Linked DNA regions of Homo sapiens: regions 1, 2 and 3 are each reported to be linked to region 4. The links are microRNA targets in miRTarBase. Many come from high-throughput screens and were not tested one by one. Region 4 holds a microRNA gene; each other region holds the end of a gene's coding sequence.

Region 1 (7,122 bases), not on the chromosome of region 4:
TGCTGTCATTCCAGCTCTCTCAGTTTTTATTTTCCCCATAGCCTCACTTTGAATATTGACTCCTAAATAAAAGTGGTCAAACTCTCGATCACTAGAGGGTGATGTGGCAAATGCCATCCCATCAACAGATTGACATGATCTTTTTTCCAAAGGGCATGTCAACTTTTTTATCATGACAAGATTTTGTCCAAAGCTAGACTTTGATGGGAGCAGGCAAGAAGTAACATTTCCTGTGTCCCTACTATGTGTCAGACATCTTCTGTAAGTCCCCACACTATCCTGGCAAGAAAAGCATGATTATCCCAGTTCTATAGAAGAGAAAGTAGGGTCAAAGAGGCTAAGGAACTAGCCTGGGATCACAGATTTTTAACCCTAGTCTGTCTCCAGGATCACCCGCAGGAGTAACTCAGCTCAGGAAGCAGCTGCTGACGTGCCCAGCAACTCCTCACCCCAGCTTTCTGGCTTGGTTACTCCATTAGTCCCCACCAGCACCACTTCCTCCCAGCTCTTAAAGATTCTATTCCCAAGTCCATTTCTTTCACATCTAGAAACTTAGGCTTCTTTCCTTCCGTTACTTCCAGTGCTGGCTGAAGATGCAATCAAGGCCGCCCTGGCTGATTACAAATTGAAACAAGAACCCAAAAAAGGAGAGGCAGAGAAGAAATGAGCCCTCCCTCGGCGAAGCCTCCAGCAGGCCACACCAGCTGTTTCCCACCTGCTGTGCAGTCACCTTAGATGTTCAGAAGCCGCTTCCTCTCCACTGAAGAGCTATGAGATACGCACAATACTTGCTGTTCACGTTATGACTCTCATGCAAGCAAAATACACAGTTTCATTGTTCTGAATCCTGTGGTTTCTTTCAGCCCACTTTTATCGCCTTAACCTAGTTAATGTATATTTTGAATTGTGTGTATGACCTCAGAACTGAAATTGATAATGAAGTTGCAAGTTTTGATAGCCCGTGAAGTGCATAAGTATCTAATTTTACCTGAATTGATTTGGGGGGAAATTACCAGTAGAATGCCTTGGTCTGAATATTTGATAGAACCAATTGTTGTACATAAAACAGATTGCGCATATATATATATGTATAAAAAATAATAAAATAATGGAAGATGATGGTGTTCTCTAGTAAGCCTTGTCTCTTGGGCCCATCATTCACCCTGAAGTGGTGCCCAAAGCCCCTTGGGGTTCCCAGAGGTTGGACCGCAGTGACATACACAGCTCTCCAAGCAAACAAAGACAAATATACGTAATATTTTTTGGAACAAGGATGAAAGGAGATGATTATCGCTTGTCATTGTTCTTTGTGTGATAGTAGTTGAAAGCTCAAAGTAAGTCTTGAAGATTCTTTCTGTAATTTCACTGGTTGCTCAAATCTAAAAAGCATTAGCTTGGCACCCTAAAGCGGTAGACCAGATACATGAAGAGCACCTCGGGAATGAGTTTAAAATGCGGATTTCTAGGCCCAAGTTTCTGACTTCTGTCTGGGCAGGTAATTCCAGAGCCCCTGACTTTTAAGAACCTCTTGGGTTTTTTGTGGTCGTAGATGAGCCAAACTTTAGGGAAGAAACTTCTGAATGCTGTGTTCTGCATAGATGTAGTATCTTAAGTGGTTCATTCTGAACTATCTGTACCTGCATAGTACACCTAAGGTTGTTTAAAAAACATTCATCCAGCCGGGCGCAGTGGCTCACACCTGTAATCCCAGCACTTTGGGAGGCCAAGGCGGGTGGATCACGAGGTCAAGAGTTCAAGACCAGCCTGGCCAAGGTAGTGAAACCCCATCTCTACTAAAATTACAAAAATTAGCCAGGCATGGCGGCACGCACCTGTAATCCCAGCTGCTCGGGAGGCTGAGGCAGGAGAATCACTTGACCTGGGAAGTGGAGGTAGCAGTGAGCCAAGATCACACCAGTGCACTCCAGCCTGGGAGACAGAGCAAGACTCCGTCTCAAAGCCAAACAAACAAACATTCATCCCTGGCTTGGGCATAAGTCTAAGCACGGGCCCTCCTACCCTGATGTCTCCCTATTTTTAGCTACCCATAGTCATGCAAATCTCAATAAAGGATGCCCTATCTTCTAGTGAAAATGGGTTATTGAAATATTGACTGCCATAGTCTCAAATGTTCAGCTTCAAAAGTAAGATGTGTTTGTTTTTTCTGGTGGTGGTTTTTTTGTTCAGGTATAGGCTGGCTGCCTCTTAAATATACCTCCCTTGTTTTTTTTGTTGTTTTTTGTTTTTTTGTTTTAATGCTCTGGGTTCTGGTGGAGGGCACAGAACTTCAAAGACTGTTCCTTCTGTAGTCTGTGAAGGCAGCCACAGACCAGGGCCTTTATAGGAATCTCAAATTAGAACCCTGGGTAGAACCATGTAAAATTGTCCTGTGTGGCATGTTCTGCAATTTAATTCACAGTCCCTCTAGACTGAGCTTGTCTCTCCCTTCTTTATTACATGTGGCACCACCACAATTCCCCACCACTTTTCTTTGTGATTTTTTTAATTTAAATGAGACATTTCTGTCCCAGTGAACATCCTCAGAGTTGAACATCAGGAGGAGCTTATAAACAAAGCAATATTCCCAGAAGAGCCCAAGTCTCTAAACGTGGTTGTACTGCTAAAACAAATGGATATTTTTTAAATTCACATTAAAGACACTCTTTCCCCAAACAAATCTAGTTTGAGCCACATGAGGGCATCATGTGCCCTTCAGTGAACTCAAGTCTAGGGGTTTTTGCAGCCTCCAAATAGGTCTTAGCATCTCTAAATAAACCTGTCCATGGAAAACCTCCACAGATAAGTTAAAATGGTCTGTCAAGCACCTGTGCTCTGTTCCAGGCCCTTACATCTGTAATCCTGTTAATTCTCATGACAGCTGCCTGCAGTGGGCATTGATTCAAACAAGGACACTGGCTCAAGAAGCCAACTGACCCTCAGGCCAACTGGCTTGATCTGAGTGACCCAAAGCCCATTCTTCTGCCTCACCCCTCCTGGCAGAACACACCAGGGATTCAAACTGCACATCAGAGGCTCACCTGTGCCTTGAACATTCAATGAAGAAGCTGAACCAACACAGGTTGAGCCTGATGCATTCTCTTGGCCAACTGGCTGCCAAGCACCATGGCCCTCACGCCAACCCTGGCTCCCACCAGGAGCCTAATTAAATCCTGATGCCAAGTTAAATCCAATGCTCTGGAGGTGGGGCCTGGGCACTGGCATCACCTGATGGGCTGGGTGGGTTTATGGGCAGATGGATGGATGGGGAAGCAGAGGCTCCGAGAGGTGAAATGACTTGCCTCAAGGCACACAGCTAGGAAGTGGTAGAATTGAGCTCTGGCTGAGGTCTTCTGCCCACCTCCCACCCTCTCCTGAGTGCCACACTACAGCTATGACCACATCTCGGATGTAACCTTTCCTAAGTGTGATTCCTGGACCAGGGCCACCCGGGACCACATCCAAATGCACAGTTCTAGAACCTCACATTAAGCATTGTCTTGTAAAAACTACTTGGCCCTAGGATGAATTTTCTTAAAAAGACAAACAAATGAGGCACACTTCTCGATACTTCAGGCCCTTTGAACTTGAGGCAAGAGTGCAGACCTTGTGTCTATCTTCACGACAGAAGAGAAGACTTCTAGGTCCCACCAAGTTTTGGTGGTGTTAGAGGGCCCCTACAGATGAGTTCCAGCCCCAACCAAAGATGGACGTGGAGCACATCCCCTGCCAATGGCTCTTGGAGGCCTGTCTGCTTGCTTTCCCCACCCCCCGAGATGACATCAGCCAGCCCCTCAAAAGGCCACCTCCCCAGAGAAGATCATCTCCACCCAGGGAGCAAGCAGCAGGGCAGAGTGGAGTGAGCTTGGAGTGTTGAATCAAATGCTGGCTACCGCTGTGTGACCCTGAGCGAAAGGCTCAACCTCCCCAAGCCTCAGTTTATTCATCTGCAAAATGGGAAAGATAATAGTACCTACCTGATCAGGTAGACCTGACGATTAAATGAGATAATACATGGAAAGCACATGGCACACAGAGTTCACTGTTGGCCAGGTACAGTGGCCCATGCCTATAACCCCAGCACTTTAGGAGGCCAAGGCAGGAGGATTGCTTGAGCCCAGCAGTTAGAGACCAGCCTGTGAGGCAGGAGAGGTAGTCAAGGAAGTGACCATGTCCTCGAGATGCAGCATCCGTGATGACTGTACAGTCAACACAATAAGCCTCAGCATTCACATTGTAATTGAGCAAAGCTCAAGCAAAGCTATCTTCAGTAGGGACTTTCCCCTCTAGAGAGTGTGCGCACTTTGATTTAGCTGTCCTCAAACTGACCCTTTGCTCATTAAAAGAGTAAAAAACACACCCCTAGGTGGAGATTTAAGATGCGAATGAGACATGCAATGTATGAACAAGCACGTACAGCTACTGTGCGTGGGCACCGAAAGGACCACCCAGAACATGCTTACTAGTAACACCTCTCTCAACCCCTTATGAATAATGATGTAAAACCCCCACAAAGGGAGTCTCCCAGCAATAATCAATGCTGTCCTTAAGAGCAGCCTGCCCTAAATCCTGTCTCTCTCAGGGTGTCCTGTCCTTTCTGTACCTAACTTTCAAAATGTTCTTTTTCCTCTGCAATAAATTACTCTATGCTGCACCTCCCCTTTGCTGTGTGTCTCTTGTCTATATTCTTTTAAACTAAGAAGGCAAGAACTGAGATCTTGCAACAATTGTCAATACTTGGGCAAGATGGCAAGACCCCATCTCTACAAAAAATAAAAAAACTAGCTGGCTGTGGTGTCGTGCACCTGTCGTGCACACTACAGTATCATGCACCTGTAGTCTCTGCTACTTGGGATACTGAGGTGGGAGGATCCCTTGAGCCCAGGAGTTCAAGGATGCAGTGAGCTGTGATGGCACCACTGTCCTCTAACCTGGGTGAGAGAGTGAGACCCTGTCTCTTAAAAAAAAAAAAAAAAAAAAGAGGAAGGAGAAGAAGAAAGAAAGAAAAAGGAAAAAAAAATAGTTCATTGCTGTTATGGTGGTTCTCATTATTACAGGTAACACTTCAGCCCTGACTACATACTAGGCACTGTTGCTGGGTGTTTTATATAGATCAGCTCATTTGCCTCACAAAAATCCTAAAGTACTATCAATATCCCATTTTACAGATAGAGAAACTAAAAGGTAAAATGATGTGTCAGCAAATGGTAAGATCAAGATTCTAGCTCAGAGCTGTTTGATCTAGAGCCCAAGCCCCTGCATGCTATGACTGTACTTTCTCTACTGCTATTTTCACTATTACTATTTGCATTGGTATTATTACAGGCACACCTCAGAGATGTTGCAGGTTCGGCTCCAGGTCACTGCAATAAAGTAAATGTTGCAATAAAACGAGTCACACAAATTTTCCCAGTGCATATAAAACTTATGTTTACACTAAACTGGAGTCTGTTAAGTGTGCAATAGCATTATATCTAAAAAAAAAAAACCCAATGTGCATACCTTAATATAAACATAGTTTGTTGCTAAAAAAAAATGCTAACAGTCATTGGAGGCTTCGGTAAGTCATTATCTTTTTGCTGGTGGAGGGTCTTGCCTCAATTTTGACAGCTGCTGACTGATCAGGCTGGGAGTTGCAGAAGGTTGAGGTGGTTGTGGCAATGTCTTTTTTTTTTTTTTTTTTTTTTTTTTTTTTGAGATGGAATCTCGCTCTGTCGCCCAAGCTGGAGTGCAGGGCTGCGATCGATCTTGGCTCACTGCAAACTCTGCCTCCCAGGTTCAAGCAATTCTCCTGCCCGAGTAGCTGGGATTATAGGCATGTGCCACCATGCCTGGCAAATTTTTTTTATTTTTAATAGAGATGGTGTTTCGCCATATTGGCCAGGCTGGTCTTGAACTGCTGAACTCAGGTGATCCGCCCTCCTCGGCCTCCCAAAGTGCTGGGATTACAGGCACGAGCCACTGCACCCAGCCATAATTTCTTAAAATAAGACAACGCTGAAGTTCATCACTTTGATTGCCTTTTCCTTTCACAAAAGATTTCTCTACAGCCTGTGGTGTTAGTTGATAGCATTTTACCCATGGTAGAACTTCTTTCAAAATTGGAACCTATTTTCTCAAACTCTGCCACTGCTTCACCAAATTTATTTCCTTCCTTCCTTCCTTCCTTCCTTTCTTCTCTCTCTCTCTCCCCTTTCTTTTTCTTTCTTTCTTTTTCTTTCTTTCCTTTCCCTTCCTTCCTTCCTTCTCTCTCTCTCTCCTTTCTTTCTTTCTCTTTCTTTCTTTTTCTTTCTTTCCTTTCCCTTCCTTCCTTCCTTTCTTTCCTTCCCTTCCTTATTTTGAGTCAGAGTCTTGCTCTGTTGCCCAGGCTGGAGTGCAGTGGCACAACCTCAGCTCCCTGCAACCTCCGCCTCCTGGGTTCAAGTGGTTCTTGTGCCTCAGCCTCGCAAGTAGCTGGGATTACAGGCGTGCACCACCATGCCCAGCTAATTTTTGTATTTTTAGTAGAAATGGGGTTTCCCCGTGTTGACCAGCTGGTCTCAAAGTCCTGTCCTCAAGTGATCCACCTGCCTCAGCCTCCTAAAGTTCTGGGATTACAGGCATGAGCCACCATGCCAGGCCCACCAATTATACTTATGTAATGTTCTAAATCATTTATTGTTCTTTCGACAATGTTCACAGCATCTTCACTGGGAGTAGATTCCATTTCAAGAACCATTTTCTTTGTTTATCCATAAGAAACAACTCCTCATCTACAGACTCTAGTTCTAATTCTAGTTCTCTTGCTATTTCCACCACACCTGTCGTGTGGATTCTCTCTCTGTCGCCAAGGCTGGAGTGCAGTGGTGCGATCTTGGCTCACTGCAACCTCCGCCTCCCAGGTTCAAGCAATCCTTGTGCCTCAGCCTCCTGAGTAGCTGGGATTACAGGTGTGTGCCACCACACCTGTCTAATTTTTGTATTTTTAGTAGAGATGGGTTTTCACCATGTTGGCCAGGCTGGTCTCAAACTCCTGACCTCAAGTGATCTGCCCGCCTCCACCTCCCAAAGAGTTGGGATTACAGGCATGAGGCACCGGGCCCAGCCAAAATGTGTTGTTTAATTTTAATAGAGATGGGGGTCTCG
Region 2 (7,117 bases), not on the chromosome of region 4:
AGAAGTTGTATGTTGAGCATATTGAGGGATAGAACCCCAGAGTTGGCAGCGTTGGTGGGCCCATGGTGGAGGGCTGCTGCCCTTTCATGGCCATGGCAGGATGCTTCTAGAACTGAGTCTGCAGGCTGAGCCACAAGGTAGTAGGGAGCTGATTAGCTCTAAAGATTTCCTGTGGTTTTGATGCTGAACTTGTGCCCCTTAGGGAATTGCCTTGATCTCATGGTGGAGGTCCTTGTTCTGGTACATACAGCCCACACAGTGCATGGCACACGGGAATGCCTTTAATGTTGTCTTATATAGTAGTGCCTCCTGGTACTCCCGATGTTTGGTCTTGTTTTGCTCTAATGCCTTGGTGTTTAGCATTTGGAAATGCTGGTTAATTATGTGTGAGGCAGCGGGTGGTGGCTCCCCATTTGTGTCATGTGTTTGACAAATGGTCCTTTATTCCACTGGCCTCTTGATTCCCTTGCTGAAGAATCCCAGGGTGGGCTAGGGGTGGCGTGAGGGGGTGGGGTAGCTAGAGGGAGGAGAGATGATCAGGGTGTAGAGTGCTGGAGGCTCAGGGGAGACGAATAATGGAGGCTTTGTGGTGTTCCATTATTAATGAGGGGAAGAGTGTCCTGGCCAGCTTTAAAACCTGAGCTTTTGAGGTTCGGGGAGCTGAGGCTGAGGGATGGGGTGGGGGTGATAACAACCAAACGTGTCGGTGCTGGAGTTGCAGGGAGAGACTCCCATTCTGATTTCTCCTTCTCCAGCTACCCTAATTACCTTTCTTCTCTACCTTTGTTCTTTTTTAGGAATTTGACAAGAAATATAACCCTACCTGGCATTGTATCGTGGGCCGAAATTTTGGCAGCTACGTCACACACGAGACAAAGCACTTCATCTATTTTTACTTGGGTCAAGTTGCAATCCTCCTCTTCAAGTCAGGCTAGGTGGCCATGGTGAAGGTGTCAGTGGCGGCGGCAGCGATGGCAAGCAGGCGGCGTTGCTGGGACTGTTTTGCACTGGAGCCAGCATCAGGATGTCCTCTCCAATGGCTGTGCTACTGCATGGACTGTATACTCGATTTCATGTGTATGTCGCAGTAAACAAAACCAAACCTCTTTCTGTTTAGTTGCCTGGGGGAAGAAGGCTGCTTTATGTTTATTTTTCAAGACTTTAAAAATATTTTTTGGTTGTATTGCACTAGGAAATCTCTCCCACCTCTCCCTTTTCTCTTTCTTTCCCTATACAAAATAAAAGGCCCACCATAGAGACTAGGCGGCCGAAAGACTAGGAGGGCTGAGGAAAAGAAATAGGTCTCTGGAGGTGGAACTAAAACTGTGCAGCTGCCTCTTCCTGGCGGTGGATGCTGCTTTGGGAGGGCCAGGGAGGCTGCAGGGGGACAGTGTTGGGATTGTCAAGGAAAAAGGGGTAGGAAGGAAGGTGGAGGGATTGATCTAGTACCAGGGAGAATATTCCACTGAACTGTGATTCTATGGCTTGGGGCGGAGGGTGGGGTGGGGATGCCTTCTTTAGGGGCCCTGAGATGTGTTTGTCTGTGGTGTGTGGGAGTGGGGAGCAGATTTGTCTTGCTGTCTTTGTCAGAATTTCTAAGTAAGGGCTGTGTCTTTGTGGATTACCTTCTTTTGTTCTTCCTGCCAGAGATCATGACAGGAGGATGCTGGGGTAGGATTAGCTTGAATCTTTTTTTTCTTTACATTTTTCTCCTGTCTGCTCCCTGCTTAGCCCTCAGTTTCCTCATTCCTCTGGAGTTCTCTTAGAGCAGCCCCTGTTGTTAGTTGGCTGGCAAGGGAATTTCTGGTGACTGTAGTTCCTTAGTTAGGTCTTAGCAATCAAACCAAATTGATGTCTCCCTTGACTCTTCTGTGTATATGTGTGAATATGTGTGTATATGTGTGTGTATGTGTGTGTGGGGTTTGGGGTAGAAGGGAGGGAGGGGGCAGGACAGTGTGGAATCTCTAGGGTGTATGGGTAGGTAGGGGGCACAGTTAGTTCTAAGTGGGCTTTTATGCTAAAAGCCTCTGGGGATATCTGTTTTGAAAATAAAGATAGGTGTCCCCTCCTTGCTGTCATCTAGCCCAGACACTCTGCTTGCTCTCTGGCTGTCTGCTCCCTGGGAAGGCTTTAGGAGGACCACCCAGGACAGGATGACCATGCTGCCATCTGCTCTGGAGCTGGGTCTCAGTGCAGAGGGACAGTGACTGTGGATGGTTGCAGTCTCTGGTGGGAGGTGAGGATAGAAGTGATAAAGAGCTAAGAGGAGCTTCTGGGAGCCTTGGAGGAGGTCAGTCTTGCAGTGGTGAAGCCAGGACATAGGAGATGGAGCAGGGCTGTGAGAGGAGGAGATTCTGAGGAGGATGCAGGGGAAATCTTGTCTGTTAATGAAATAGGAGTGGGGTGGGGTTTGGGGTGGGGTGGTCATTGCCGTTTGAGCTGCTGATTTTCATGAGTCGCCTTCAAAACTCTCGTGTAGGGTTGACAATGTGGGGGGGTGGGGGATCCAGCTTATTCTTTTATTTTCAAGTCCATTCTTGGGGCTGGTGGGGAGGCAGGAGAATACCCCTCCCTAAGCCCTTAGTGTGTGCCGAGCTTGCTTTGTGATGTTGGCAGGGGAGGGGAGACCTGGGTGGTGACTGAGTTCCCTTTATCAAACCCTTCAGTGGGCACAAAATTGAGTGCTTGATTTTAGGTTTTATTTTTTTATGAATGTCCAAATCTGTGTTTCCCCCTGCCCTCCCAGACTGTGTGGCCAGTTGAAAGTGTCTGGTTTGTGTTCATCTCTCCCTCATTTCTGGAGCAGGGCCTGAGACCCTGCCACATCTCCTATGCTCTGCATCCACGCCTCTTTTGGACATTAAAGGTTGATTGATGCACCTCTGCACTGTTTGGGTCTCTTTGGGGATGAGGGGTTGGCATGGTGGCAGTGGTGCCACACAGTGGGTGAGGGTGGAGAGTCTCCAGGGTGGAATAGAATGGGGACTGAAGGGAAGACCAGCCACTAGATACTGATTGGCCTGTAGCAGCACTTATTTGTGCCTAGGCTTATGCCCCTTAAGTAGAGGAAAACTAACCAGCAGCACTCACCCTTAAGGGCTCCTGGGTTCTGCCTTCCTTGGTGGTGATGGCCAGGTGAATCATATTTTGTGTCTTTGGGATAGTAACTGCTACCTTCCCAGCTGCCGTCATGGACCTGCCTGAGCTTTGCTGCTTCAACTTTTGCCCAAAGCTCTTATCTTTCATACTCCTCCCTTCTCGGCTTTCCTGAACCTGGAGACTATTTAGCAAAGGGTCTGGCCACTCAGAAATGGAAAGCTGGGGATATTTAGAAAGATGGCACCTCTTTTGGTGGAACCTAAGTGATTCTCTGAATCCTCTGTTGCCCAGACACACAACTCGAGAAATCAGCAGTGCCAAGACTTCTGAGAGTGTCTGCCCACCCCTGACTCCACCATCGTGTGACTGCAATTCTCTTGGAGGTGTTAGGGAGCCAGAGGTGCTTTGCCCTCTTTGTGTTACTATTTCTTTACTCAAAAATATTTAAGAGTTCTTGTATGCTTGGGCCTAGGATGCTGTTCACAGAGGAGAATGAGACAAGTAAGTTCTAGGCTTCTATGACATACACATTCTTATGTGTAGAGCAGACATACACACACTGATCAACTTTTTCCAATAGTGATAAATGTGTTATCAAGGAAATGAACTGGGCAATGAGCTATTGAGTGTTGGAGGTAGGTAGATAGGGTTCCTCCAGTTAGGAAGGTGGTTGGCTGATCTTGGGGAGAAGTTCTACCTCTGGGGCAGTGAGGTCCTAAGGGATTAAGTTGAGAGACTCTAGAGCCCCAACTTCTGTTACTGCTTTAGCTGTCGTGAGTAATTTGACAGAGCTGGAGCTTTGGGAGGGAGAGTGAGGCCACAGTTCACATTTCATCAGGGATGAGTGTCTCCAGGGCCAAAGCTCATCTACTTTCTTCCCTGATGAAAGAGGCAGTCCAGGTGGCATCTGTGAACAACACATTCCTGCACAGGTAGGTGCACAGTGCTCATCTGGAAGACTAATCCTGCAGGGCTTCCTGGAGGAGATGAGCCTCCACTTTTCGGGGCCCAGGATGGGAAAGTATGTGAGCATGTGTCACTGAAGGGACTGTGGAAAGCAGATGGAAATTGTGGAATTCTCTCGGAACAATGCAGCCATTATTAGAACTGTGCCCATAGGAGCATCAATATCCCTGCTCCTTGTATCCTGTTCTCCAGTCTTCTGGGGACCCCCTTTGACTGAACCCAACCAAATGGCAGATGACAAGGCAGACCCAGGATGCAGTCTGTAGGGTTCAGTCCCCCTCCCCACTGGGAACAGCAGGAAAGGGCAAGGTGGTGACAATCTAAGGGAGGCAAATGGATAATAACCAGCATGGTAGGGAATCTTCTTTGTTGCTGTGGCACTGTCGATCTCTGTTCCCTGAACTCTAGTGTCCTCCAGACTAGATTTAAGGTGTGGTTCCCCGCTAAATTATTCTCTCACCTCCTTTCAGTCTTTGCTCAAACATCCTTTTATCAGAGAGGCTTTCTGACATCCTGTGCAAGATAGCACCTCTCCCCCATCGCTGTTATCCTTACCCAGTTTAATTCCACGTAGCATCTGCCAACGCTTGACATATTTGTTTTTTGTTTACTTTCTGGCCTGTGACAACTAGAATATAAGCTCTGTGAGAGCATTTTTCTCTTAACTGCTTATCTTCAAGTAAACAGAACAGTGCCTGTCCTGTAGGAAGTGTTTGATACATACAGATTGCTCAAATGAAAAAAGAAGGGTGCGAGCAAGCCTGGACAGGCCTGGTGCCCCAGGGCAGCCTTGCCTTTTCTGAAGAGAATGGCTGCCTTAGGCACGGCTCTCCTTGCTGCCCAAGCCTTGCCACCTTGAAAGGCGTGAGAGGGTCACTCCCAGGTGTATTCAAGCAAGAGTGCCTGAGCCACTCTTGCTTGGCAGTATGGGAGGATGAAATAGTGTGTTCATAAAGTGCATTTTATTTTTAAAGCATTTCAGTTTATGTTGCTGAAACCTGAGAGCGCCCCCCTGAGCTAGACTCAGTAATCATTAGACACATTTTTGGATAAGCAAACTGAATCAGAGAAGGTGAGTGGCAAAGCCCATGTAGCTGGTGGCATTACTAGAACTTAGCACTGTGATGCACAAAGGCTTAACTGGGTTTGGCAGCAAGGGTCTCATGGATACTCTTTAAGATGTAGGCCCAGATCTCTTAGTAGTGAATCCCTGATGTTCCCTCTCTTGGGGCTCTGGTTTAGCAAGGACAGCGAGGATACTTTCCTCTCTCCCTCCTCCTTACTCCTCTCTACTAAGGATTAAGGAGCCACCTCTTCCTCCTTAAGGCCTTTGGGAGAGATGGGTCTCCTGGTATTAGAAAGGAGAGCAGACGCCTAGAGTTCTGACCTCTTGGGCCTCCCCTAAACAAAAAGCATAGCCCCTTCACTACCCTAGTAACAAGTATGACCTGTTGCCTGTTGAGGTCAGGTGTACCTGTGTGTCTCTCTCTGTGATGTATGTGGGCTTGGTGTCCACATCAATGTGCGTGAATACTCCTACCCACAGACTGCTACTGTGCCAATATAGAGGTTCATAAGAAAGATAAAAGAGAACCAGCAGAACCCCAGGTTCTGCCTCTCCTTCCTCCCTTTGCCCAGATAAAGGTGTACAGTGTTTGTGGTGAGGCTGCTGGACACTGCTGTTTTGGGCTTTCTAGAGAGAATGCAAACATGCAAAAACAGTGTGGTAGTGTAGGCAGAACAAGATCTAGAATCAGAAGACCTGGAGTCGAATCTCAGCTCCAACACCCACTGGATGAACGTGGACAAGCTGCTTGATCTCTCAGATCCTCGATTTCTTCATCTGTAAGATGGAAACAATATGTGTCTTTTCTAAGGGGAAAGATCAAATGACATCATGTATGTGAAAATGCTTAGAAATGGGTGATGATGATGATGATGATACTGATTATTAGGGTATCTAATAAAGTTGGGGAAAGAACAAAATCCCCCCCTCACACCCTATTGCACCACCAGCCTTCTCCCTCCCTGCTCAATTATACCCATGTTATAGGGAAGGAAATAGGGAAGAAACTTGTCTAAGGTCACATGGATGTTCGCAACAATTGGGATGCAGAACTTGATCTGACTCCCAGGCCAGGTTTGATTTTGATTTGCAGTGGCAGAGAGGACTAATTTTTTACTAGGTTCTGAGCCCTGTACTGAACTCTGGATTGCCCTGTACTTGGTGGTGGTATACAGTTCAGCAGTTTTTAGCATATACACGAATTTGTGCAGCCATAACCACTATCTAATTCTAGAACATTTTTATCACCCCCAAAAGAAATCATGTACCCATTTGCAGTCACTTGCCATTCCCTCTTCTCCCCAGCCCTGGGAAACCACTGACCTACCTTATATCTCTATGAATTTGCCTAATCTGGACATTTCATATAAATGCAATTGTACATGTGGCCTTTTGTTTCTGGCTTCTTTCACTTAGCATGTTTTCAAGGTTCATTTGTGCTGTAGCATTTATCAGTACTTTGTTCCTTTTTCTAGCTGAGTAACGTGTGGGTATATCACATTTTGTTTATTCATCTGTTGAGGGATGTTTGGGTTGTTTCTACTTTTTGACTATTGTGATTAGTGCTGCTATGAACATTGATGTACAGATTTTTGTGTAGATATGTTTTCAATTATCTTGGGGCATCTTTTATTTTTAATGTCAGTTTTCTATTTTTAAAAAATCTAGACAGGTTGGCAAATCATTTCTGTAAAGAGTCAGTAAATATTTTAGCCTTTGTGGTCCATGACATTAGGTATACAGATTACAATTTCTGAACTCTGCCATTCCAGTGTGAGAGCAGCCATAGATAATATGTAAACAAATGAGCATGGCTATGTTCCAATAAAACTTTTAAAAAGCAGGGGACAGATTGGGCCTGTGGACCATAGTATACCAACCCTTAATCTAAATGACACATTCACATGATACATTATTCTAAAGGCACAAAAAGCAAAAATTCTCCCTCCCACCTCTGTCTTCCAGCTACGGGGTTACCTTCCTTGA
Region 3 (7,122 bases), not on the chromosome of region 4:
TTTGTTTCTTTTTAAAAATACCACCCAATCAGAGAAGAGGCCTGCATTCTTTTTACATGTATTACTTTTATAATGAAAATATATACCCAGTTCTGTGTTATAAATTGCAGTCTGCAATGTTCCACATATCCACTGAGTCAAAGAAACGCTATTAAGTACTGGGAATCCAGCAAGGGAGAACTGTCACCCAGCTAACCCCAAAAGAGAACATTGACAAAATGCTTTCAGTAGAAGCAAAATCCTGAATTGCAATGTTGGGATTTGCATTCTCATCAACAATCCTGCGTGAGGCCAGCATCCCAGGATTATCTGGATTAGTGTGTATGAGGATTATAGAGGTGCACTCCAGACACCTAGTAAACATGTTCCTGTCCTCTGTCCTGGAATGACTGTACACTGTTTACTGGAATTCAGTACAATCTCACCTGGGCCCAGGCCTCTCACACCCCCTTTAAGGTTGGCGATCTTCCCTAACCCTTCAGCCTGGAGGGAAAGGCTGGACCTTCTGGGCCCTGCCGTTCCTTGCTGTCTGCTCTCGGTTGTTTCTGTGCGACTCAACTCTGAGTGACTATGAGTCATTCTTTCTAAGAAAGCCTCACTATTGAACTGAAATATGCTTTGGCCTCACAGAGCTGCTTTGTTTCCTTACAACCACAACATGGGCATCAGTACATTTTAAAGCATTTCCTCAAAAAATCAACATTCATGACAAACTGGAATTATATTTAGGTCTATGTTGATATGTTCATGAGCTAAACCTGAAAACATTTTTATCAGTCAGCCAAGTTCATTAACTAGTGTACTGAGCTGGAATTTAAAGGACACCCTACCACTGGCTCACAGCTCTGCACCATCACCGAGAACAGAAACCACATCGGATTCAGAGTCCTACCTCGTGCTCTTGGAACCGGATTTACAGAATGTCTCAAACCACAAGCTTCCTTTTCTGGACACTGGCTCCGATAAATAGGATAAGAACCTTTGCACCGCTCCTTAGAGGGCTGGGATGGATCCCACAGGAGCAGTGCCTGGTCCCTGGACCACTAGCTTCCCAATGCACACATGCACTGTTGGCTGCTGGCTGGCTGGCTTCCAAGCCTCTGCTAGTCAAAGCTCTCTCTCCCACTTCCCTTCCTTGACCAATTTCTGTTTGGAGGACACTGCTTCCAAGAAGTTGTCTGTCTCCCCATCTTGGAGAAGCCAAGGCAGCCTGCTAAGCAAATCTCCTTTTAGCATCTTCAGATTGACAGATTAATGGTACTATGATACTTCCCTAAGTTTGATTTCAATTTTACTAATAATACGTGGTTTTTTTTTTTTTTTTTTTGAGATGGAGCTTCGCTCTTTTTGCCCAGGCTGGAGTGCAGTGGCACAATCTCAGCTCACTGCAACCTCCGCCTCCCAGGTTCAAGCAATTCTCCTGCCTCAGCCTCCCAAGTAGCTGGGATTACAGGTGCCCGCCACCACACCAGGCTAATTTTTTGTATTTTTAGTAGAGACGGGGTTTCACCATGTTGGTCAGGATGGTCTCGATCTCTTGACCTCGTGATCCACCCGCCTCAGCCTCCCAAAGTGCTGGGATTACAGGCGTGAGTCACCGCACCCAGCCTAATACTTGTTATCTTTTAAACAGAGTCAGAACAGGCCAGGCACAGTGGCTCACACCTGCAATCCCAGCACTTCAGGAGGCCGAGGCAGGTGGATCACCTGAGGTGAGGAGTTCGAGACCAGCCTGGCCAACATGGTGAAATCCCATCTCTACTAAAAATACAAAAATTAGCTGGGTGTGGGGGCACACGCCTGCAATCCCAGCTACTCGGGGGGCTGAGGGGAGAGAATCACTTGAACCTGGGAGGCAGAGGTTGCAGTGAGCTAAGATCGCGCCACTGCACTCCAGCTTGGGTGATAGAGTGAGACTCCGTCTCAAAAAAACCCCAAAACCAGTCGGGACAGGTAAACTAAAGCAAATTGGTGACACCTGCACTCCTACAGGAAGAGACCATTCACCTGGATTACTTTATACCATGACACTCTCCCCACCTTTACTATGTAAAACAGCTTAATCTCTGAACTAACAGGGCAGGGGGATCCTGCAACACACTGAATCCAGATGTGATTGGATGGCCTAAGTAACCCTTCTCAGGAAAAGAAGTTGCTTCTCAGCCATGCTGTGGACAGAGGGGCCCTGCAGAAGGAGCGGCTTCTCTGATGGGCAGAGAACCCACAGAGGCAGGGACAACTGGCATGCAAAATTAAGAGACAGAAGGAACACAAACCCTATGCCAGGAATAAAAACGAAATAAAACTCAGTACTCAAAGCACCCAAACTCTGGAGGAAACTCGAGTCTCAACCTCCCCATTTCCCCTGATTCCATCCTGCAAAACTGTTCCCTCCTTTCCACTTAGTCCCATCCCTCTCTTCATGCCCCAGTCACAATCTGGATATACTGGGTTTGGAAGGATGGGAAAAATGCTAAGATAATCCTACTGTGGAAAATATATCAACACCCCCAAAGCAGGAACCAGCTTTGGTGTTGTACAGTCATCTTCCCAAACCTAGCTAATCACAACTACCTGTGGGATCAGTAAGATTCCTAGGACCTACTAGAGAAGGGGTCCCTGATCCCTGGGCAGCAGAACGGTCGTGGTCCGTGGTCTGTTAGGAACCAGCCTGCACAGCGGGTGAGAGGCGGGCTGATGAGTGAGCATTACCATCCGAGCTCCACCTCCTGTCACATCAGCAGCAGCATTAGATTCTCATAGGGTTGGAAACCCTATCGTGAGCTCTGCATGCAAGGGACCTCGGTTGCGCACTCACTGATCATGCCCGATGATCTGTCACTGTCTCCCATCACCCCCAGATGGGACCATCTAGTTGCAGGAAAACAAGCTCAGGCCTCCCATTGATTCTACATGATGGTGAATTGTGTAATTATTTCATTATATATTACAATGTAATAATAGAAATAAAGTGCACAATAAATATACTTGAATCACCCCAAAACCATACCCCCTGCTCATCTGTGGAAAAACTGTCTTTGGTGAAACCAGTCCCTGGTGCCAAAAAGGTTGGGTTCTGCTGTACTAGGGAACTTCAGAATCACTCTCTGGGCCTGGGAATCTGTACTTAAAAATGCTCCTTGGTAGATTCTGATCAGAGATTTGTGAAGCACTGACAGAGAACAGGATGAAGCCCTAACTCCTATGTGGTAATGTTTCCACAATGCTGATGTGCTACAGGAAGTAAGTTCCCTTTATTATTAATATTCCCAAGCGGACAATTTCCTAAGTAGTAAATTTTTTTTTTCAAGTTGGCAGGAAATAATTTCCCACTTACTGTCTTTCCATGTGGAGGGACTTTAGCCAGTGTTTCTCAGAGTAGAGGAGCACTACTGCACTTTGGGTTGGACAACTGATTGTGTGGCACAGCACAGGACATTTACCATCCGGGCCCTTACTTTTAAATACCAGTGGTGATCCCCAGTGATTGTGACAACCAAAACACATCCCCTCACATTCCTCAGTACTCACGCACCACTTAATGATGTTTTGGTCAACGATGGACTGGGTATACAATGGTGGTCCCAAAGATTATGATACCGTATTTTTACTATACTTTTTCTGTTTAGATATGTTTTAAATACAGAAATACCACTGTGTTATGACTGCCTACAGTATTCAGTACAGTAACATGCTGTACAGGTTTGTAGCGAGGAGCAACAGGCTACACCATATAGCTTAGGTGTGGAGTAGGCCATACCATCTTCATTTGTGTAGTACACTCTCTGATGTTCACACAATGATGACATTGCTTAACACATTTCTCAGAATGTGTCATGGCCGGGCCTGGTGGCTCATGTCTGTAATCTAGCACTTTGGGAGGCCAAGATGGGAGGATCATTTGAGCCCAGGAGTTAGAGACCAGCCTGGGCAACGAAGTGAGACCTCATTGCTATTTAAAAATAAGAACATGTCGCTATTATTAAGCAACAGATGACTGTGTTCCTAGGATGTCAGGTAACCCCACCGAGAGCCACTGTGCTGCACTGCTGTTCCCGACCTCTTGCCCTACCATCACATGAAGCCCAGCTTTTGGAGCGAACTGTTTTAATAGACAGATTCTGCATCTTCTTCATGCGTCTGCCCACAGGGAGTGTGTTCTGGCTGCTGTTTCCAGCCTGGCCTGTGCCTGGGTGGCTCAATCTCCTCATGTCACGGATCTGATCTCAGAAGTATTTTATTTACACACAGGAGGGGAAGGAAGGGGCTTTTAGCTTTCCCTAAACATCTGCAACAATAACTCAATCTTAGAAATAAAGTAACTGATTTATAGTTATTACAGGGAATACAAACATTATAATTCCGCTCTTCCATTTAAAAGATTCCTTTCATTATGTTCCTACTGAAACAGAATGTTACTATTTAAAGAGAAAGAACTTTGACGAGCATTTTTTATTGAACAGTTTTATTCTGTTTTAGAATAAAAACTTTGCTTTAATATTGTAAGGGGTACTGCAGGTATGCCATGCTGCCAGTTATTGCTGGGGCACAAAACGCCCCAGTCAGTGATTCGGAGGGCTGGGAAAACGCATAAACTCATAATTTCAGAGCAAGTAGAACTAGTATTTACAGTTTTCTTTCTTGAAATTGGCCCGGGACATCTCCAACAGTCTACACATGTATTGCCATGGTACTTGCTCTGATGCTCTGAATGCCTCGGAACTGTGTTCAATATCATGATTTGTGGGTCCTCTAAAAGGTTTTGTTGTTAACATGCAAGCAAACAGCACTGAACAATATTGTCTAAACTATGGCTGCCAAGTACTGGATCTTCATAATGAAACCAAATTACAAAACACTGCCTTGTAGAGCTATACAAAAGATATAAAATGAAAATAAAAAATGTCAACCAGCCTTAAATATTCCAATTCTCCTACAGTGCAGTTTCTATATCTTTATCACTACTGAATGTTTTAAGGAGAAAGTTAAGAAAACAATCAAAATATTAGATAAAAATATTTAAATCTTTGGATCCTTTTATTCCATGGCCTTCATAAAAACACAAAAGTGGCCAGATTTTTCCCACTAGAGCTTAAAATATCAAAAAGATTCACTAGTAATTTATAATTAGCAATGAACTCTATACTGAGTCATCTGTGGGTCATCATAGGCCCAAGGACCAGTGTTGCCGTGTGTTACAGGCTACCAAAATAATTTCTAGCACTCTGAATCCTCTTGAAATATGATGGAATGAGTCAAGGTATCATGACTAAATTCCAGGCATAATAGGAAAAACAGGTTCATTGATGCCTAGTTTTAAAGTCCTACAAAAGGGGGGAAGATTACTTATTTGAAAATACAGCTAAGTACATTCTCATCTGTGATTATTTACATTTGTATACTGAAAATATCGATTATCTGGACAGATCCTGTGATATGCCATTTGCTACAAAATGAAGTTCTTACAATGAGCATGAATAATTAATCCTTTTTAGATAATGAAATAATGTATCAAATCTTCATTTATGTTCCAAACATTAAAAAACAAAATCAAAAATGTTAAGCCTGGAAAACTAAGAAAAAAAGACCCACCCATAAGGCTGCTGCTCAGCACATCAACTTCTGCAAGGACACAGTATGTTTGCTGACTTTAAAATGTTTATTCTTTAAAAAATTAGTTGCTTTTTATACAGCTATACAAAGTTCTTAATGTTTCTTTGGCAATGGAATATAATGGAATTTTACAACTATATAAAAAAGTTACCTTTGCCTAAGAAACAGTATTTACTGTGTGTACATAGTTGACTGACAAAATTCTCTACCATCCAGCACCCTAATTAATTGACGAAATAAGCTACCTCATATTACAGGATTCCCCAAAAGAAAGGAGGAAAAAGACACACACATACACACACACACACACACACACACACACACACACACACAACCTTCTGTGGCTCAAAACACAGTATCACGGCCCTATCTGCAGGCAACTTGCAATTGCCAAATACAATTTAGTGATAAAAAAAAAAAACCTTTCAGTGATGAAAAAATACTTGTTAAGTCCCACTGAAGTACTGCTTTAGTTTAACTATACATAAGAAATTACTTAACCTTCTGCTATTCCAAATATATTTAATGCTCATGTTTTAAGATGAGCCTTCCACCCCCAAAAGTAACTGCATTTTATCTTTGAAATTAAGCGGAAAAACAAACAAAAAACAAAAACCCAGTGCTGGTGACAAATGTACAGCGAATTCACTTCTTCATTCTTTGCAAAGACTGAAATCAATGTTCAGGACCATGAAGAGCTAGAAATTCACCTATTTTCAGAGACTTGTTTGTAGACTATGCAGCAACTTTGTTGTCTTTCTAAAAAAGAAAAAAAAATTTAGCTCATGTTCCAAATTATTGGTGTATTATTTTCTTTTTACTTTGCTCAAGTTTATTTTAAATTATCTTTAAATATACTCCCCCACTTTTACTTTCATAGAAAAACCTGTCTCACTCATTTCCACGAAACTCCTTCTATAACTTCCATACTCAGTAGTACCTCATTGTTGACTGCATCTTCCAGTCAGTAGAGGTTAATGCAGTGGTGAACCCCACCCCAAAATACAGGCATACTTCCTCATCTTTGGTTGTTCTCCCTAATAATTTTTTAAAAGCAGTGATAGGACTTAAACCCTCAACTCAATAGTCAAACTCATCAAATACAACTGTCAACATACTTTGAAACAAGTTTCATAAAATCCCCAAGTCTTTGATGTCTTTACTAAGCAATAAAATACCCAGTCAGTATAACATTTCTCTCCAAAATTTCATGCCAGGAGGAAGCAATGGTTTAAAAATCAATTTTACAAGGATAACTCTTAAATCTGAAATAAGCTCTGAAAAGTAGAAAGCTGACTGGGGAATTTTTAAAAAGTAACCAGTGAGGAAGCAATAAAAATCTCAAGATTTCCAGAGAGACTGACCCTAAACTAAAGGCCTGTACAAAGGGCTGGAGCCAAGGGCTTTTATTTTCCTCTAGACCAGCTGCTACCATATACCTGGTTTTTACTGCTGATTCTCACCCCAACTGTTAGAAACAGACATTTCCTAGGTGAGACTTAACTTCAT
Region 4 (7,122 bases):
CTAATATTTGTTCATCACTTTCACAAAGAATATAGCTCTTCTTCATTTTTATTTTCTTATAACCCATGCTGTTAAGTTTTCACATTATACTGAAATATAGTTTCTCACGTTAGTTTACAAACAAGACGATTCCTCCTCGTTAAAGGAACTGTTAAGCCAGATGGTGAAAGTCTTTGCATCCAAGAGTCCTGAGCAGCTGAGGTATATGAATAACAGCTGCCTGAACCCAAATCTCCTCAAACAACCTCTAAGCAACAAGAATAAAACCACACAAAATTCTCACCTTTGGCAAAATTAGAAGACAGAAAAATATTACAAGTGAAAATTACCCATAGGTATAAAAATAAGCACCAAATTCCAGCATAGCTAACTTTCGAAGCTCTTCTGAAGTCATTCCCACAAAGAAAAGGGGTTCTGAAAAAATGCACAAGAAAGATAAGGGACAATTGAGTTAAAGCCAACCCCAGGAAGAGATAGCTCAAAGAGTCCTGATAATAATCCTGGTGATGGATTATTAATCATTGAGTTCTCTAAGAATCAATTAATCCATCCAAATCTAAATAAATGAACAAAAACTAAATTAGTACTGGGGGAATCTTATCCCTTTAAGTGGAATGTCAGCTAATAAATGTAGAAGGGATGGTAGACTTAGAAAATCACCATTTTGGAACTATTACAATAAAAATTGATGTAAGCAAAAATTATCAATGAGTACTTAAATGAGTAGGTCAAAGTTTGGGGAATAAAGAAGATTTAGGTATCTTCAAAGTATCTCTCCACAAATTAATTATAAATTACTAAGGGGAAAATAAAAAATTTGCAGTGGAAAAACCTAGCAGAACCATCTTAGCCAATCAATCGTAGCTAACATCACCAATCATGGGACAGACCAGCATCATGTTGCCTGCTGATGTGATGTGCTGAGAAGAGTACAGTCTCATGTCTGTTTCCCTATCTGACATGCATGACCTGGTTCTAAACAGAGGAAATATCAGACAGACCCAAACTGAGTGACATTCCACAAAATAACAGGTACTCTCCAAGCTGCCAAGGTTATAAGGGAAAAGACTGAGGATTTAATCTAGATTAAAAACACTCCAGGGACATGATGATTAAGCACAATTCTTACCACTGAGTTAAATTTTAGACCAGGAAAAAAAACACAGGACATTGTTGGGATAATGGACTAAATTTGAATATTGGCTCTGGAAGAGGTATTCCTATTATATAAATGGTATATATATTTTTTTACTCTGGTAATTTTACTAGTTATTCAAGAGAATGTGTTTTTCTTAGGAAACACACACTGTTCGAAAGGTTAAAAAATGTTTATTAAGAGAGTAAATGATAAAGCAACCAGAGCAAAAATGTTAATAATTTGTGAATCTAGGTAAAGAATAAAATGAGGATCATTTGTTCTATTCGGATAATCTCTCTGTAAAACTTGAAATTATGGTAAAATAAAACGTTTAAAAAATTCTTGTTCTACTTTATTAAAAATAGAAAATTCTGATATTTTCCTTTTAAAAAAATAATCTCTGAAGTTAGATAACTGGAAACAAAAATTTACAAAGCTTCCCCACAGATCCTTATGAAATAAGTTTATGGTAGAATTAAACATATCCAGGTAACTCAATCTTTTGCTTTTAAGCCAAATTAATTGAGCCAAAAACAATACAGAGCTCTTAAAACATTTTGTTGATTTTTGATAAATTAAGTTGTCCCAGTATTGCCAAAATGTTTACAACAATAATACAACAAAACTGGCCAGGCACAGGGACTGACACCTGTAATCCCAGAACTTTGGGAGGCCAAGGTGGGAGGATCACTTGAGCCCAGGAGTTCAAGACCAGCCTGGACAACACAGTGAGACCCTGCTGTGATTGCACCACTGCATTCCAGCCTAAGCAACAGAGTGAAACCCTGTCTCCAAAAAAAAAAAAAAGAAAATAAAAGAAAAGAAAAAAAATCATAAAACTAACACTCTTCAGTCATTATATGATTTTCATTATTGAAGTTTTATATTTGCTAAAATACCTGTTTTTATTGATCCATCTAGTATTAATAGGTGTAACTGCAACATGTCCTTTTGTTTATGAGCTTAAAAATATAGCAGAAACTACTATAAATTGAGGATTTACTTATGCTAGGTATGGTGTAAGGAAAATTTTAAAAATAGCATTCTGTTTTTTGATCTTAAAAAATCCTATAGGTATGATTAGTACTTTATCTATTTATAAATAAGGAACTGAAGATAAAGAAGGTAAAGAACTTAGACCTAACTTCACACAGTTTGTAGTTTGTAACTGGCAGAGGTGAGGTTCTAAACCTAGTCAACAAGGCTAGAAAGCTAGTAGGTTTCCTAGCACCCTATGTAGTACATATGCTTGCTAGTACTATTAGTAATTCCAATGATTTTTACTTTGGGATTTGGCAAAATCTCTCAGGATAAATAATTCAAAATCATCAATTGTTAAGTAATTTTCCTAGATGAATTCTTGGAATCAAGATGATAGTCTGCTTAACATACGATTCCATTATCTTATCATGTCGGACTACAGCCTGGCAAAGGTACACTGCTCTGTTGAAAAATAATTTTTAAATATACTGTTATTAATCTGGAAGAAACTGCAATGTAGGAGATCTAGAAATAGATAATATTAATTTATTCTGAAAAATTAAAAGGACAGACTTGAGTAACAGACAAAATTTCCAAATAAGCAGATCTTGATTTTGAAGTTCAGGTTTTTATTCTATTTTAATTAAAAATCTAATAACAAAATCAAAAAACCCAGAAACAAAATCCTTGCAAATATTTTTCGTTTTGAACTTCTTTTTTATTACTATTATAATTTTTTGTTGTTGTTTTTACATGCAGAGATAGGGTCTTGCGAGGCTGCCCAGGGTGGTCTCAAGATTCTGGGCTCAAATGATCCTCCCACCCCAGCCTCCCAAAGTACTGGGATTGCAGGCATGAGCCACCACACCCAGCCTGTTTTGAAATTCTTTAAGTTTTCATATGAGCTGTCAAAAAGGTTTCTAGCTACCCATTGCTTTCAGACACAGTAGCTCTATTTACGTGGCCACTGCCAGCACATGAGTCACTGAGTCAGACTGTGACATGCCCACAGCATATCCCATTATTTAACTCATTGACTCAAGGAACACATAAGAAAAAATACACAGTCTACAAATTAATCACTTTAGCAAAATTGGCTTTACACATATTCCAGGATACGTGCATGATTAAGCAAGCTATATTTATGTCAGCAGAGAACTATAAATAGAATATTTATTTAGAGTCATCTTATCTAAGGAGATGTCTAATTTTTGTTGAATTTACACCTCAGATGTCAGACTCAACAGAAAAACAGGCAAGACATGCAGTTTTGTTTTATCTTCCTCCACCAGCCCCAATGCCAAATGTCACATGACACACACACATATACACACACACACACACACACGCAAAAAGGTTGTATTTCTCCGGTAGTCAGAATAGCAATAGCGAATTCAATGGTTCTATGAATGTCTGGATCATGTTTTGGAAAGAAGTAACACTTCTGCAGAAATTTTGTTTCCCTGTTTCTCTTAGATTCAAAGAGCTGGCAAACTGCCAAATCGGAAATTCTGCAAACTGGAAGTGCAAATTGTGTTATTTGTATTGTAATCTTTAACATGTGTCATTTCAATGATTCCCAAATCACACTATGAATCAAAATTAAAACTAAAAATGCAGGTTTTGATAAAATAGGATTCAATGGAAATGTAAAATTACATTTTAGCACAGTGTCCTCCATTGAATATGTTTCCTTCTTTCCCTCTTCCTCTTTTCAGTTTAGTCTCACACAGGTTTTAGATTTTATCTGAGGTTTGAGAGTAAAGTGTTGCATACCTTCCAAAAAGCTTTTGCCTTATTTCCAATTATTGCAATGCAATATTAGATAAGAATCCAAATAAGTGTGATTTATGGGTATTGTTACATTTATCTGGAAAAAAATGCAAACTTAAAAGTGTTTGACAGGGCTCACCACATGAGAAACATCTAGACCCTTCTAGCTTGTCAAAGAAATGGAAGACAATTGAAAGAGTTTGTAGTAAAGCGTGGAAAGGACCAATTTAATGATTTTGTTAAAAGAAATGAAAACAATTATGTCATTATAATATTACTGCTATAATATTATATGTTATATGTTGTTATAACAGAAAAAAGTCAACATCTTTCATCATTCATTTTTGAAATTAACTTCTGTCATACAATTGAACATTTGTTTTTGCTTCCTTTTTTTTCTCCAAATATTTGGGTTTAGTTGAGGTTCTGGAAAAAACTTAGTGTTTTACTTTAGACTAAATAAGCTTAAAATTCACTCAATATCAGCATAAAAACTTTTACCGGAACATTTTGCATAGGACCATATTCCTGTTTTCCATAAATTTAATCTACTAAAATCTAAGAGCCAGATCAGAATTCTTTTTTTGGCAGGCGAGCTTAGAGAAAAATTAAAACAATCAGATTGTTTTCTTGAGTCTCTATAAGCATACCTCCTCTGCACAGTGAATTGAAAATCCTTTTGCTTCCACATCTGATAAATAATACAATTAGTAACTCTAATAATTTTTATTTTTGATGGAATGAAAATGCAGTCATCACTTTGTGAATTTTTTTTTTTTTTTTTTTTGAGACATGGTCTTGCTCTGTCCCCCAGGCTGGAGTGCAGTGGCACGATCTCAGCCCACTGCAACCTCTGCCTCCTGGGTTCAAGCGATTCTCCTGTTTCAGCCTCCTGAGTAGCTGGGGCTACAGGCAGCTCCTGTGCCACGATGCTGGCTAATTTTTGTATTTTTAGTAGAGACAGGGTTTTACCATGTTGGCCAGGCTGGTCTCAAACTCCTGACCTCCAGTGTTCCACCCACCTCAGCCTCCCAAAGTGCTGGGATTACAGGCATGAGCCACCGTGCCCTTCTGCTTTGTGAAATAATTTAAGTGAATTCACATGCATGCAACTTCTCCCATGTGTGAAGCAAGTCAAACACAAGAAACATGATCTCCACATTCTGAACAGTAAATGGAATGTGAATATGGAATGAACAAATGTAATTAAACACTTATTCACTGGAAATGGACATATAATGACAAATATAAAAAGAAAAAATATGTAAGAATAATGTACCTGTACTCAAACTTGTCCTTCAGGCAATATTGTGAGAAATTTCTCCACTAAACCCAATGAGGAAACTGAAGAAAGTAAAATATTAGCATCCAATTTTCTTATGAGTTGATTCAATAAGCATTTACTAAATTCCATACAAAGTTTAAAATAACAATTCCTGCAGTCCTAGAGCTCTCATGGTACAGGAGAGAGAAATGTACACAGAAATTTACTGGTGTGGTGAGTACCACAACTTAGATGCTGACAGAGTACAGTGGGAACACAAAAGTGGAAATATGTAATCATGCACACAGACATCACAGAATATTTCATAAAGAAGGTAAATTTTCAGTTGAGTGACATATAATTACAAGGAACTCCCTAGACGGTTGCAGGGGAAAGTAGTTGCAAAGATATGGAAGGGAAAAAGAACATATCGTATTTTAGAAGATTTCTAAATGTTTTAGCACATGTGGAATATCTGGAGTATAAACAGAGAGGGAATAACTTTGCCCATTAAAATAAGGAATTAAGAAGCCACCATTATTTTTATTGTTTTTTGTTTTTTTGCTGTCAAATTAATTTTTCATCTTTGGAAATTTGAAAATGGGGAAAACATAGAGAAGAAAATTAAACCTACTTCAAATTCTGTCAGCAAAGAATTGTGTGGCTTGACTACATGCTTTATTCCACAGCCGTGCTTCTAACAGCCTTGCAGTGATACTGATCTGAGGCCATGGGCAGCAAATGAGACTGTCCCCCAAGTCAGCTGGGACCAACGATACTTCTCCCAACTGTCACCAAAATGTTCTCCACTTATTTTCCACAATGATGCATTCTTTTCTCAGTCTTGGTGCCTTCTGGATAATTAAATTTTCCCTAGATTTGGATGATATTTCCTTGATTTTATGGTATGTGATTGTTGTTTTCTACTCTTGGCACCAGTAAAGGTAGTTCTCTTTTTTATTATTATTATTTCCTATTGTTTTTCTCCTAGCGTATGACCACTTGTTGAAAAAGGGTTTTGCTCTTAAAGGAAGCTTTGCCAGAAATCCAGAGCACATTTTCTCCTTTAGTTCAGGATTATACATGTAAGTGGCACTGCTGGGTCAAGCAAGAAGTACTATTGAAAGGGTTTGGTATAGAGGCAAGTCGCTTTCTGAAAAAATGTCAATTTTCATGCCTATGATGGCATGTGAGATGCCATTTTCTAGCATGCTTACCGACAATGGGTGTTATCTTTTATTTTTGCAAAGAGTTGAGGGATTTTGAAGAATCATGGTGATAAAATCAGCATTTAACTTTCTTGCTGTCACTCTTCCCGCAGCGTAGAGGATACGCTGAGCATACAGGGTATGGTCTGGTTTGCAGGCCAAAAGATAAGGTAGGTGGTTTGTGAAATAATGTAGATGAGAAAACATAACCAAGGAAGTGGCAGGAAGAAGAAGAGAGATGGAAAAAAATTTGAGAGACAGGAAGGAAATATAAATATAGTAACCAAGAACACGTTGCTAAAGGGGGCAATAAAAATAATTCTGAAAATCGCTGGTCTCTACAAAGCACTGTACACATATTAGTTCATATAATTCTCACAAATTTAGAAGATAGGTGTTATTATTATGATTTTTCAGATTTGTAAAATAGGTTAAAGTAGACATTTAGAAAGTTGTATTATAATGATTGTACTCACTTGTATATAGGAAGCAAGATAATACATATAGCTATGCATTGAGTGTGAACTGCTTGTGAGACATAATCATATAGTTAAGTAGATTCAGGGAAATGTGGATTTGGAATTTAAGACAGAGAGAGGAATCATAAAATTTAAAACTTGACAGTCATTAGGATATCTGGTTCCCCCAATAAATCTAAGTCTTAAAGTAAGGCAAACCTTATTTATGAGTTTTATACATCAGATATATTATATGAATATAGCATGTCTCTTTCTCTCAAATAAGTAAACTGCCTTAAA

The links. Region 4 holds the annotated microRNA hsa-miR-4276 (CUCAGUGACUCAUGUGC, at 3,093-3,109, opposite strand). A microRNA usually pairs through its seed, bases 2 to 8, with sites in the 3' UTR of a target mRNA and lowers its output. Matches are read on the target gene's strand: a 7mer-m8 pairs with bases 2 to 8, a 7mer-A1 pairs with bases 2 to 7 and ends in A, and an 8mer does both.
Region 1: the mRNA of ISCU is a reported target of hsa-miR-4276. Seed matches in the 3' UTR shown: 7mer-A1 at 759-765.
Region 2: the mRNA of DYNLL2 is a reported target of hsa-miR-4276. Seed matches in the 3' UTR shown: 7mer-A1 at 1,464-1,470 and 8mer at 4,136-4,143.
Region 3: miRTarBase lists LSM14A as a target of hsa-miR-4276. Seed matches in the 3' UTR shown: 8mer at 6,038-6,045 and 7mer-m8 at 4,563-4,569.

What each region holds. Positions count from the first base shown.
Region 1 is chr12:108,568,250-108,575,371 of GRCh38, forward strand. ISCU (iron-sulfur cluster assembly enzyme) reads left to right here. Exons shown (of 5, transcript NM_213595.4): 5 at 582-1,119. The coding sequence ends at 667. Among named protein-coding and RNA genes, the nearest start is that of ISCU, 9.2 kb to the left of the region's middle. RefSeq lists an enhancer at 687-836.
Region 2 is chr17:58,088,345-58,095,461 of GRCh38, forward strand. DYNLL2 (dynein light chain LC8-type 2) reads left to right here. Exons shown (of 3, transcript NM_080677.3): 3 at 798-7,117. The coding sequence ends at 935. Among named protein-coding and RNA genes, the nearest start is that of DYNLL2, 8.5 kb to the left of the region's middle.
Region 3 is chr19:34,226,615-34,233,736 of GRCh38, reverse strand. LSM14A (LSM14A mRNA processing body assembly factor) reads right to left here. Exons shown (of 10, transcript NM_015578.4): 10 at 4,449-6,372. The coding sequence ends at 6,349. Among named protein-coding and RNA genes, the nearest start is that of GARRE1, 24 kb to the left of the region's middle.
Region 4 is chr4:174,419,792-174,426,913 of GRCh38, reverse strand. It overlaps MIR4276 (microRNA 4276), which reads right to left and starts at 3,119; the gene lies at 3,050-3,119.